2 separate regions of the Homo sapiens genome follow, and region 1 is linked to region 2. Evidence: fine-mapped expression QTL. Tissue or cell type: whole blood. Region 2 holds a variant in brackets; the other region holds the start of a gene. All regions are shown on one strand. Distances are from middle to middle.

Region 1 (5,145 bases), 140 kb before region 2:
GCCCAGGCTGGGGTGCAATGGCGTGATCTCGGCTCACTGCAACCTCTGCTTCCCAGGTTCAAGCAATTATCCTGCCTCAGCCTCCCGAGTAGCTGGGATTATAGGCATCCACTACCATGCCTGGCTAATTTTGTATTTTTAGTAGAGACAGTGTTTCACCATGTTGGTCAGGCTGGTCTTGAACTCCTGACCTCAAATGATCCACCTGCCTCAGCCTCCCAAAGTGCTGGGATTACAGGCATGAATCACCACACCTGGCCTAAACCAAGTATTATTAATTCCAAATAAAACCAATACATCAGACCAGTCTGGGTATTATTTGGAAAAAAACAAAAAACAAAAACCAATAAAGTATTAACAATCACCGATTTAATTATGCCAGATGTGTACACCTTCCTTACATTTTAGGAAGTTAGGAACAATGACTCCAGCAGGCTGAATTAAGGAATTCCTTTTTCCCAGTCACCACTTAAAAAAAATTCTTTTTTGGTTCTTCTTCTTTCAAGTATTCTTTATACCAACACTTTCAGTGCCAGATTGTATGGGTAGGGAGACGGGTTTTGAACAGATGAAGGAAAAACCCTGAGGCTACTCCTAACTTCCACTCAGACCATGAGCAAAAAAAATGCTCTATTGAATATGTACTGTATATGTACATTACCTGCACCTTGCTCACCCAGGTCAGAAAGAGCATGGGGACTCAGACAGAACCTTAGCCACTGATTTTTGCTAATACACAGTCATGCTATGCTTAATGAAGGAGGTATGTTCTGAGTGTTACGTGATTTCACAGTGCAGACATCACAGGGTGTACTGAGACAAACCTAGATGGTCTAGCCTATTGCTCCTAGGCTACAACCTGTACAGCATGTTAATGTAGTGAATAATGTAGACAGTTGAAACACAATGGTAAATATTTACATAGCTAAACACAGAAAACGTACACTAAAAATATGGTACAATGTATTACACTCTTAGGAGACCACTGTGGTATATGTGGTTTGTTGTTAATCAAAAAGTTGTTATGCTGTGCATGCCTGTACTATGGCTGGGTACCTTTTTTGCTTGTCTTAATATTTTTTTTCTCTGGAGTGGTGTGTTAAGAGGAAAATTTTCTTTTCCCCTTTTAGTATGATGTTAAGGAGTAAATTTAAGCTTTATGTATCGACAATATAAACTTCTTTCGAAACGCTAATTTTGCTTATTGCCAAATTATGAAATGATACATTATATAAATAGGCTTGGTGCCTCGAAGAGACAGACCTGTAGGTATGTGTGTATATGTATATAAAGTTTACAAATGTAATCAGTAATTTTCACATCTTATCTTACAAAGTCAGCAAATTACCGTGAAAATATCAGGCTCAACCAAATTCAAATTTCTGATTTAAAAAGAGCGTGCGGTGTGTATTTGAGATGGGAAGATCAACCATCACAAATGGAAAAATACTGACTCTATGGCATGCCAATTCGTGAAGGAATGAGAAAACTGCCTCATGTTTGGTGTTATGGGGGAATTATTTAGAAAACTTCAGGAACTCAACATAGATACGTCGCTTTTTAAGTTTCTCATTTGAAACTATGCGTTACACGTTCTGCTGAGAGCCGCGAAGGCAGGCAGAGGTTAAGGTCCTGGAATAAAAAGGGTGGCGGGAGAGAGGGGCAGAGCGTTTTGGCAGCCGAGTCTGGGGAGGGGGCCCCGCAGGAGAGAAGGCCGCAGCTGAGGAGGCGTTTACCTTCAGGTGGGTTGGGCCTGGGAGACCAGAAGAGTGCGAGCCCTCGGCTCAGCTGGGGCTCAACCCCGACTCTTCGTAGCCGCTCGCAGCGGCCTTGGCATCACGAGTCCTGGGAGGGGTCAGGCGCGGAGAGCAGATAATAGCAGCCACGGTGCTTCTTCCCGACTGTTTGAGATCCGGGCCCCGAAGGCGGGCCCAGAGGCGAGCGCTTCGCTAACGTCATTGCGCGCGCCGGAAGTACCTACCTGGGATAACGGCGGCGAGCGGACGGCTGCATTTACGGGGTCTCCCGGAGGGCCAGAGTCGGTGAGCGCTTTTTACCTTTCCCAGAGATGGATGCAGAGCGTGTGCGGGCTGCTAAACGGGGGGGAGTGGGCGGGAGTTTTCTGTGTCGGGTCCTGGATTCTCCTGCCTTTGAATTGTGTGACAATTCTGCCCATGCGGTTGAGGGTGGAGAGACGCAGTGGAGTTTGGAATAAAGGGAAGTATTGAGTCTAAGATAGGGGTTCGCCTCTCTGTAGCGCCTTAATATGCAAGAAGACGACTGAGCTAGGTAACTTCAGTGACCCGAGAGGAGTCAGGAAGTCGGTAATTTTACTGAAGGTGTTCACGGTACCCAGCTATTAGGCACTTTGGGAACTACAAAATAAACAGACCTTTTATGTTTTGTTTTGTTTTGTTTTCTGGTGAAGATCTCAGTCTAGTTGGGGAGACGAGGTCAACTTGGGGAGAGTTGGATTCACAGAATGACTCATCTTTAGTATGGGTATGGACAAGTGTTGATCTTCTTGGCACCTTTTCTCTTCCTGTAAATCTATAATGGCTACGCACTGCTTTTTCTCTAAGAGGCCATAACATGCCCACCATTCCTACAGAAAAATCAGAACGTAATGCAAGGTAATTTATACTTCTGCCTACCAGCACATACAGACCAGGCCTCTAACCACTCCCTGGGAGCCTGCGTTCCAGCAGCCTGGAACCCACAGCCTCTCCTGGAGCCTGCACAATCAATCCAGAGTGAAGCCGATGTCTTCTATAGAGACGGAAGTACAATCCATCCAGGGCGCAGCTGAATTTTGAGAGGCCTGAATGCCTCCGTGGCCGACAGGAGACCGCTGGCACTAATTCTCTAGGCATACTTGTGGCCAGCCAAACTTACCATGCTTTACATCTCTGTTATCCTTGGTTACCGCCCAAGATGTAAGCTTCTGTGGTCTTCTGTGCTATAGTCTCATTTCCATGCTGCTTTGTGCTTTCTTTCGACTTAGGCTATCACTGCTTCTTCGTTTCTTCCCCATTTAACCCCTCAACACCCCATCTGTGCTTTCTGAAACCTCTATTTCCTGCTTAAACTATTTTACATATTCAACTTCTTTAGTGAAATTCTCCTTCATCTCCTAACCTTAACTATTGATAACACGTAGATTTTCCTGCCAGCCATTTCAGTTGAGCCCTTTCTCTGACCCTGCATTTAAAGGTTGGGCATGGCTGTAGCCATGTTGAACGGATTTCAATTCCTCAGAATACTTTCTTCCCTCAGTATCTTCACAAAGGCTCTTTTCTCTCTCTGGGACATTTGAGCTCCCTGTTTCCTCCTATCTTTTTCTGGATAACTTCTATTAAAGATCTGAGTTTAGCTGTCACTTTACTTGAGGGGTATACCCTAACTTCCATAGAGTTAGGTATTTTTGCTATGTACTCTTAGCTGTCCTGCACTTCCCTCACGGCATTTATCACATGTATCTTAATTGCTTCTTTGCCATCCCTACTAAGCGAGACTGTCGGTGAGGGACTGTGTTTGTCTCGTTTATCTTTGTAACTCCAGTAGCTAATACAGTTCTTGGCACATAAGACAGTCAGTTATTTCTTGAATGATTGCAGGTGCTGAAGGTATGCTGCAGAGATCAGGCAGTTAACGTTAATGAATACTTCACCCTTAGAAGGGGTCACCTGCCACTCAGCTACAGCTGATTGTGGCTATGTGAGAATATGATCCCAGTTTTGCCAGAACATCTAATTTTTTCAAAAAAAGTTGGAAATACCATTTTTTAAAAAGCATCCTCTCCCAGTTTTTAAATGTTGTCAGTGGAATAGAATTTTATTAAAAAAAAAAAAGTGGGTCAAACACAAGTCTCATATGGCCTATCAGTCACTAGTTTGGAATCTGTTTTAAGTCTTGTAGGGTTTATATAATGGGCTTTGTGGAGAATAATAGGTTTTGAGTTGGGCCTTGATGGACCGTTGGATGTTGAATGAGAGAATGGAAAAAGATATCCCGTTTGGAAAATAAACAGCTCCGTGGTAGTATGTGTTAGTCTGTTTGTGGCACAGTAAGGAAACAGGCATAATTATATGCTTTTGGAGAGAATAGAAGGTTAGATATAATAGAAGGAGGCATATGGAAGATAGAAGTTTGGATTTATTATGGTTAATAAAAAACCTCTTGGATTCTTGATCCTGGAAACTTCACATTATGAATATGCGTTAACAGTTGATTATCCTTTTTTAGGGTAAAATGGAGGGTAAAACACTGGAAGGAGGCTGACCGGTTAAGGCCTTAACTTCCATCCATATATGAAATAAAATTCAGATTTATAAATATTATATGTAGGCAGACATCTGGCATTTTTGTTTACTTGTGTAATTTCAGTTAATTGATCAATTATAATGGACAATCAGGGATCTCCTACTAAGTTTAGTGCAGTACATTCGGGCTTATAAAAGAAGTATCCTTAAAGCGTTGGAAAGTCAAGTGACTTGTGAAACTAGTAGAGAATGCAGTACTTTTTATTTTTTTATTTTTTGAGACGGTGTCTTGCTCTGTTGCCCAGGCTGGAGTGCAGTGGCACGATCATGGCTCACTGCAACCTCCATCTCCCAGGTTCAAGGGATTCTCCTGCCTCAACTTCCTGAGTAGCTGGAATTACAGGCATGTCCCACCATGCCTGGTTAATTTTTGTATATTTTTTAAGTGGAGACGGGGTATTACTATGTTGGCCAGACTGATCTTGAACTCTCAACCTCAAATGATCCGCCAGGCTCAGCCTCCCAAAATGGTGGGATTACGGGCATGAGCCACCGCACCCAGCCCCAGCATCAGTTAATTTTTTTTTTTCAATGACCTTAACTAATTATGTTCTAAAATTTATGTTTAGTTGTCTGGAATTTCAATTTTTTTTTTTTTTTGTGTGTGTGTGTGACGGAGTCTCACTCTGTCACCCAGGCTGGAGTGCAGTGGCGCGATCTTGGCTCACTGCAAGCTCCCCCTCCCGGGTTCATGCCATTCTCCTGCCTCAGCCTTCCGAGTAGCTGGGACTACAGGCGCCCACCACCGCCCCCGGCTAATTTTGTTTTTGTATTTTTAGTAGAGATGGGGTTTCACCGTGTTAGCCAGTATGGTCTCGATCTC
Region 2 (5,328 bases):
GTAGCTTTGCCGTACCCTTCCTTGTCACTGCAGTGTCTGGCACAAGTTATTCCTGGCAGGAAGCAGCTACTAAGCCTTTCCTGTCTACATTACAGAAGCATTACCTTCATCAAAGGGCTGGATGTCAGTAGTTTGACTATAAAACTAGCCATGCAACAGCAACATTTCTATAATCCAAAGACTTGTTGCAAATAATTTGCATAATGTCCTAGGTTCTAGGCCTAATCTTGCCTTTAGAACCTATGTAATGTTTGGCATTTAGCCTTTTGGTAATTCAAGTTTCCTCATTTGTGAAATGCAATCATATCATCCACTCTATATAGCTCAGGGTCATTTTAAAGATAAAATGTGGATAACTGGTATGACTGTGCTTTGAAAACATTAAAGTAGGCCAGGGGCAGTGGCTCACACCTGTAATCCCAGCACTTTGGGAGGCCAAGGCAGGTGGATCACCTGAGGTCAGGAGTTTGAGACCAGCCTGTCTCACAAAAATTAGCTGGGCGTGGTGGCAGGCGCCTATAATCCCAGCTACTCATGAGGCTGAGGCAGGAGAATCGCTTAAACTCAGGAACCTGAGAGGCAGAGGTTATAGTGAGCTGATATCGCGTCATTGCACCCCAACCTGGGTGACAAGAGTGAAACTCCATCTCAAAACAAAACAAAAAACTAGGAAAAAAAAGAAAACATTACAGTAATATTTTAGAATCTAAATAAAAAGTATTCAGCTGTTTTTGAGCTACTGTCACAGGGAAATTCAGGAAGATGTTTAAAAAAAAAAATGAGCTTGTGGCCAGGCGTGGTGGCTCATGCCTATAATCCCAGCACTTTGGGAGGCTGAGGCGGGTGGATCACCTGAGGTCAGGAGTTCGAGACCAGCCTGGCCAATATGGCGAAACCCCATCTCTACTAAAAATACAAAAATTAGCCAGGTATGGTGGTATGCACCTGTAATCCCAGCTACTGGGGAGGCAGAGGCAGAAGAATCACTTGAACCCGGGAGATGGAGGTTGCAGTGAGGTGAGACTGCGCCATTGCACTCCATCCTGGGCGACAAGGGCGAAACTCCACCTCAAAAAAAAAAAGAGCTTGTAAAGTGTGTGGGCCAATTTTGGTATCTTAGAATACATACAGAATAATTCAAGCGTACAATATCTTTCAGACACAATCCAGTTGTACACTCCTTCCTCCAATCAATTTCCTTCTCTTCAAAACAGGGTAATAAAACCTATCCCTAAAGACTGCACTGTAAATATATTTTATGCACATGCACTCACCTCACACATGTGTTTGTTTTGCTAGTGTTTGGTATTTAAGTGAGGTTCCTTCCTTCCCTTGATCCATGGTTTTGAATAACACACAACTCCTACTCATGCTGAATTGCAATTTTTTTTTTTTTTGAGATGGAGTCTTGCTCTGTTGCCCAGGCTGGAGTGCAGTGGCGCAATCTTGGCTCACTACAACCTCTGCCTCCTGGGTTCAAGCAATTCTCTTGCCTCAGCCTCCCGAGTAGCTGGGATCACAGGCCCATGCCCAGCTAATTTTTGTATTTTTAGTAGAGCCGCGGTTTCGCCATGTTGCCTGGGCTGGTCTCGAACTCCTGACCTCAAATGATCTGCCCACCTCAGCCTCCCATAGTGCTGGAATTATAGGCATGAGCCACTGCGCCTGGCTTGAATTGCAATTTTTTGAATACACTTTTTAGTAGCTCCTTTTTTCAAATACCCCATAATCCCTAGATTACGTACCTGTGATATTGGACAATGCCAAAGAATCCATCGAATCCCGAACACTTTGCTCTGGTTTCAGGTCTGACAGACACTCCAGGGAATCTTCATACCACTGTGTTTCATCATGATTATACCCTGAAGCCCCATGGTCCAGTTCCAATTCCTGAAGCCTTCTACTGCTTGCAGGGCCTGGGTGGCTGCCATAAGCAGAATCGCCCAGTCCATCTTGTGACTGTGCCCAGTACATATCAGACTGGTATTTTTTACTTGCAAGGCTCTGGTTATTTTGCTTTAACTCGGTCTTACTTTTAACCATGTTATCAGATATCCAGTGCTCACTGGCTCGAATATCCATCTCATTGGGCTGTGGCTGAAAGAGGCTTTTATCACCAAACTTGAGGAGGAGCTGCGTCATATAATCTTCATGATCAGCCCATTCTTCAGGGTCTTCTGGAGTTTCCTGCTCTACTCTGCCTTTCCAAAATTCTTCACTGGCAAAACTTGTTCCTTGTCTGGAGAGACTCAGATCATCCAATTTTCGAGAAAGGGTGTCATCAGCATTGCCTGAGAGGCCAGGAAACTTGTAGTTCAGAGCAGGCGATAAGAGGAGAGACTGTCTACACTGATCTGCTGACCGGCTGCTCTTGCCCATTCGGACACTTCTTCGGGAGTCTCTTGATCGAGCTGACTGAAATGCAGAGTCGGAAGAATCAGAGGCATGGACGTCTTCACCAAGACTGCACGTTTTTGAGCAGTAAATCTGACCCTGTTTGGGAAGGAAGGGACATCCCAACAAAGAGGCTTTACACTGGGCACAAGAAAAGCAGGCTTCCGTGGCGTGCCAGTGCTGCCCGTCATAGGTCATCTGTGCATGGTCCACACCTGTTTTGAAAAGGATAGAATAAATAACAGGTTATGGTTTAATGCCTGAAACAAGGTATAAGGAAGAAACGAAGAAAATAAATAAAGATTATGGGTATGGGGGAGCTGTGTGGGTGACACAGATATAATTAATCCTCATTCTTTGTGGATTCTGTATTTGTGAGTGTGCCTACTCATAAAAATTTATTCACAACTCCCAAACTAATATTCGCAACAGTTTCATGGTCATTCGCAGATGTGCAGAGTGGTAAAAATACGAACTGAACCAACATGCACTGATCCAGGAGATGCTCAGCTTTTTGTTTCAGCTCTCATACTGTAGACAAGTGTCCTATTTCTGGTCTATCTACTGCCGCGTTTTCTGCATTTTTGTGCTCTTTGTTGGTGAGTTTACTGTTTAAAATGGCCCCCAAGTGTAATGCTGATAATGCTGAAATGCTGTCATGTTGCTAAGGGCAAGAAGGCTGTGATGTGCCTTACAGAGAAAAGACATGTATTACGTAAGCTCCTAATCTTGAGTACGGTAC[C/T]ACTGGCTGTGAGTTCAATATTAATGCATCAACAATGTACATTCAATAAGGCAGTGGCTTTAAGCAAAAACACACGTGAAACAAGGTTATGTATTGATGGGTTGATGAAACTGCTGTGACCAGAGGCTCACAGGAACCTAACCCTGTATTCCCCCATGAGCAATGGTTCAGTGTTCACTAATCCAGTGTTTGCAGTAACGTCACAGAACACAACTACTGCAAGTAACAAGAATCAACTCTCTGTTCATTTGTCAAAGCTCATCAGCTGGAACATTTAAGATCTGTACATTTCATTGTATGTAAATTATATCTCAACTTTAAAAAACAGAAAAAGAAAAAATAAGACTGGATAATCCAAGACAGACTAATGGCTAGGTGACAGGGCAGACGGGCTGGCTGTGGACTTACCAATATGTTCCCCACAGGTTTCACAGTACTCCGCATAGAGAGACTCAAAACAGCCACAGCAGAAGGGGCGGCCGTCCTTCATGATATACCTCTGTCCTCCCAGGACCGTTTCACACTCAAGGCAGCAGAAGTGTTTCATGTGCCAATGGCGACCCTCAGCTTCTGTGCACTCATCAGCAAAAATTATCTTCAAAAAGAAATGTGAAACCAGAGAATGAAAGAAAATCATTAGGAACTATTTTAAAGGCCAAGTAACTGCATGTTTTCCGGGCAATGGACAGACACTGGCTCTTAAAAAAATCAGATAGCTAACCTTGTTTCTTAGAGTCACAAGCTTAAATCTAACACTTGATTTAGCTACAAACTAGAGCATAAATTGACAGTGCTGAGAAAACAAACTAAATAATAAATGCTTGCTTTGACTTTAAAAAAACAGAATTCTACACCGGAGGTAATTCATTTGGTCATATTTTTGCTCCCCAATAACATTTTCTTGGCATAATCTGGCAAAGAACACATTAACACGGAAATAATTTAGTGAAATAATTTGGTGTTTTAGTAGAAAGAAAACTCATAAAAATGTCTGTGGACTCAACACAGTTATAGCTACACAGATGCTGGAATTGAGTGAACAGCATTTGTGTTGATAATGCTTTATTTGACTTGGTGGCCATCTCTAGATTAAGGACTCTTTATTTTTTTGAGACAGGGTCTCACTTGTAGCCCAGGCTGGAGCACAGTGGCACAATCATAGCTCACTGCAGCCTCAAACTCCTGGGCTTGAGCGATCCTCCCACCTCTGCCTTCTGAGTAGCTGGGACCACAAGGGCACAACCACCATGCCCAGCTAATTTGAAAAACATTTTGGGACAGAGACGGGGTCTCACCATGGGGTCTAGTCTGGTTCTTTTTTTATTTTTATTTTTATTTTTTATTTTTTTGAGACAGAGTCTCGCTCTGTCACCACGCTGGAGTGCAATGGCGTGACCTCGGCTCACTGCAACCTCCGCCTCCTGGGGTTCAAGCAATTCTCCTGCCTCAGCCTCCTGAGTAGCTGGGACTAAAGGTGCATGCCACCATGCCCAGCTAATTTTTGTATTTTCAGTAGAGACGGGGTTTCACCATGTTTGCCAGGATGGTCTCTGTCTCTTGACCTCGTGATCTGCCCATCTCGGCCTCCCAAAGTGCTGGGATTACAGGCGTGAGCCACCGAGCCCGGCAGGTTCTTTCATTTTTTTTATATTTTTGGTTTCCAAAATATGTTCAGCGGAGCATGGTGGCTCACCCTGGTATTCCCAGCATTTTGGGAGGCTGAGGGAGGTGAATCTCTTGGGGTCAGGAATTCGAGACCAGCCTGGCCAACATGGTGAAGCCCGCCTCTACTAAAAATACAAAAAAAAAAATTAGCTGGGCGTGGTGGTGGGCACCTGCAATCCCAGCTACTCGGGGGGCTGAGGTGCAAGAATCACTTGAACACGCGGGGCGGAGGTTGCAGTGAGCCAAGATTGCACCACGGCACTCCAGCCTGGGCAACAGAGAGCAACTCCATCCCAAAAAAATAAATCAAAACAAAACAAAAACAAAAATATGTTCAAATAGAACATTGTTGAAAAAAATGTATAAAGTAAATGAATGTATAAAAATAAAAACAAAGTTTATTGTCATAGATTGAAGGAGACTAAGAAGATACAACGAGTAAATGCAATGAAGCACCCTGGATTGATCTTGGATAAGAAAAGGAGCATCTGTTAAAACACTGGGAAAATCTAAACAAAGACTATGGT

Evidence for each region. PIP is the estimated chance that this variant, and not a neighbour inherited with it, causes the effect.
Region 1: PPHLN1 starts here. The variant in region 2 is fine-mapped to the expression of PPHLN1 in whole blood (INTERVAL, PIP above 0.99).

Annotation. Positions count from the first base shown.
Region 1 is chr12:42,324,188-42,329,332 of GRCh38, forward strand. PPHLN1 (periphilin 1) reads left to right here and starts at 1,980. Exons shown (of 10, transcript NM_201439.2): 1 at 1,980-2,042. It overlaps ZCRB1 (zinc finger CCHC-type and RNA binding motif containing 1), which reads right to left and starts at 1,907. Exons shown (of 8, transcript NM_033114.4): 1 at 1,737-1,907. RefSeq lists an enhancer at 1,603-1,652.
Region 2 is chr12:42,462,650-42,467,977 of GRCh38, forward strand. PRICKLE1 (prickle planar cell polarity protein 1) reads right to left here. Exons shown (of 8, transcript NM_153026.3): 6 at 3,545-3,731; 7 at 1,746-2,609. Among named protein-coding and RNA genes, the nearest start is that of PRICKLE1, 120 kb to the right of the region's middle. RefSeq lists an enhancer at 2,116-3,315. The variant C/T (reference allele first, on the strand shown) is at 3,137.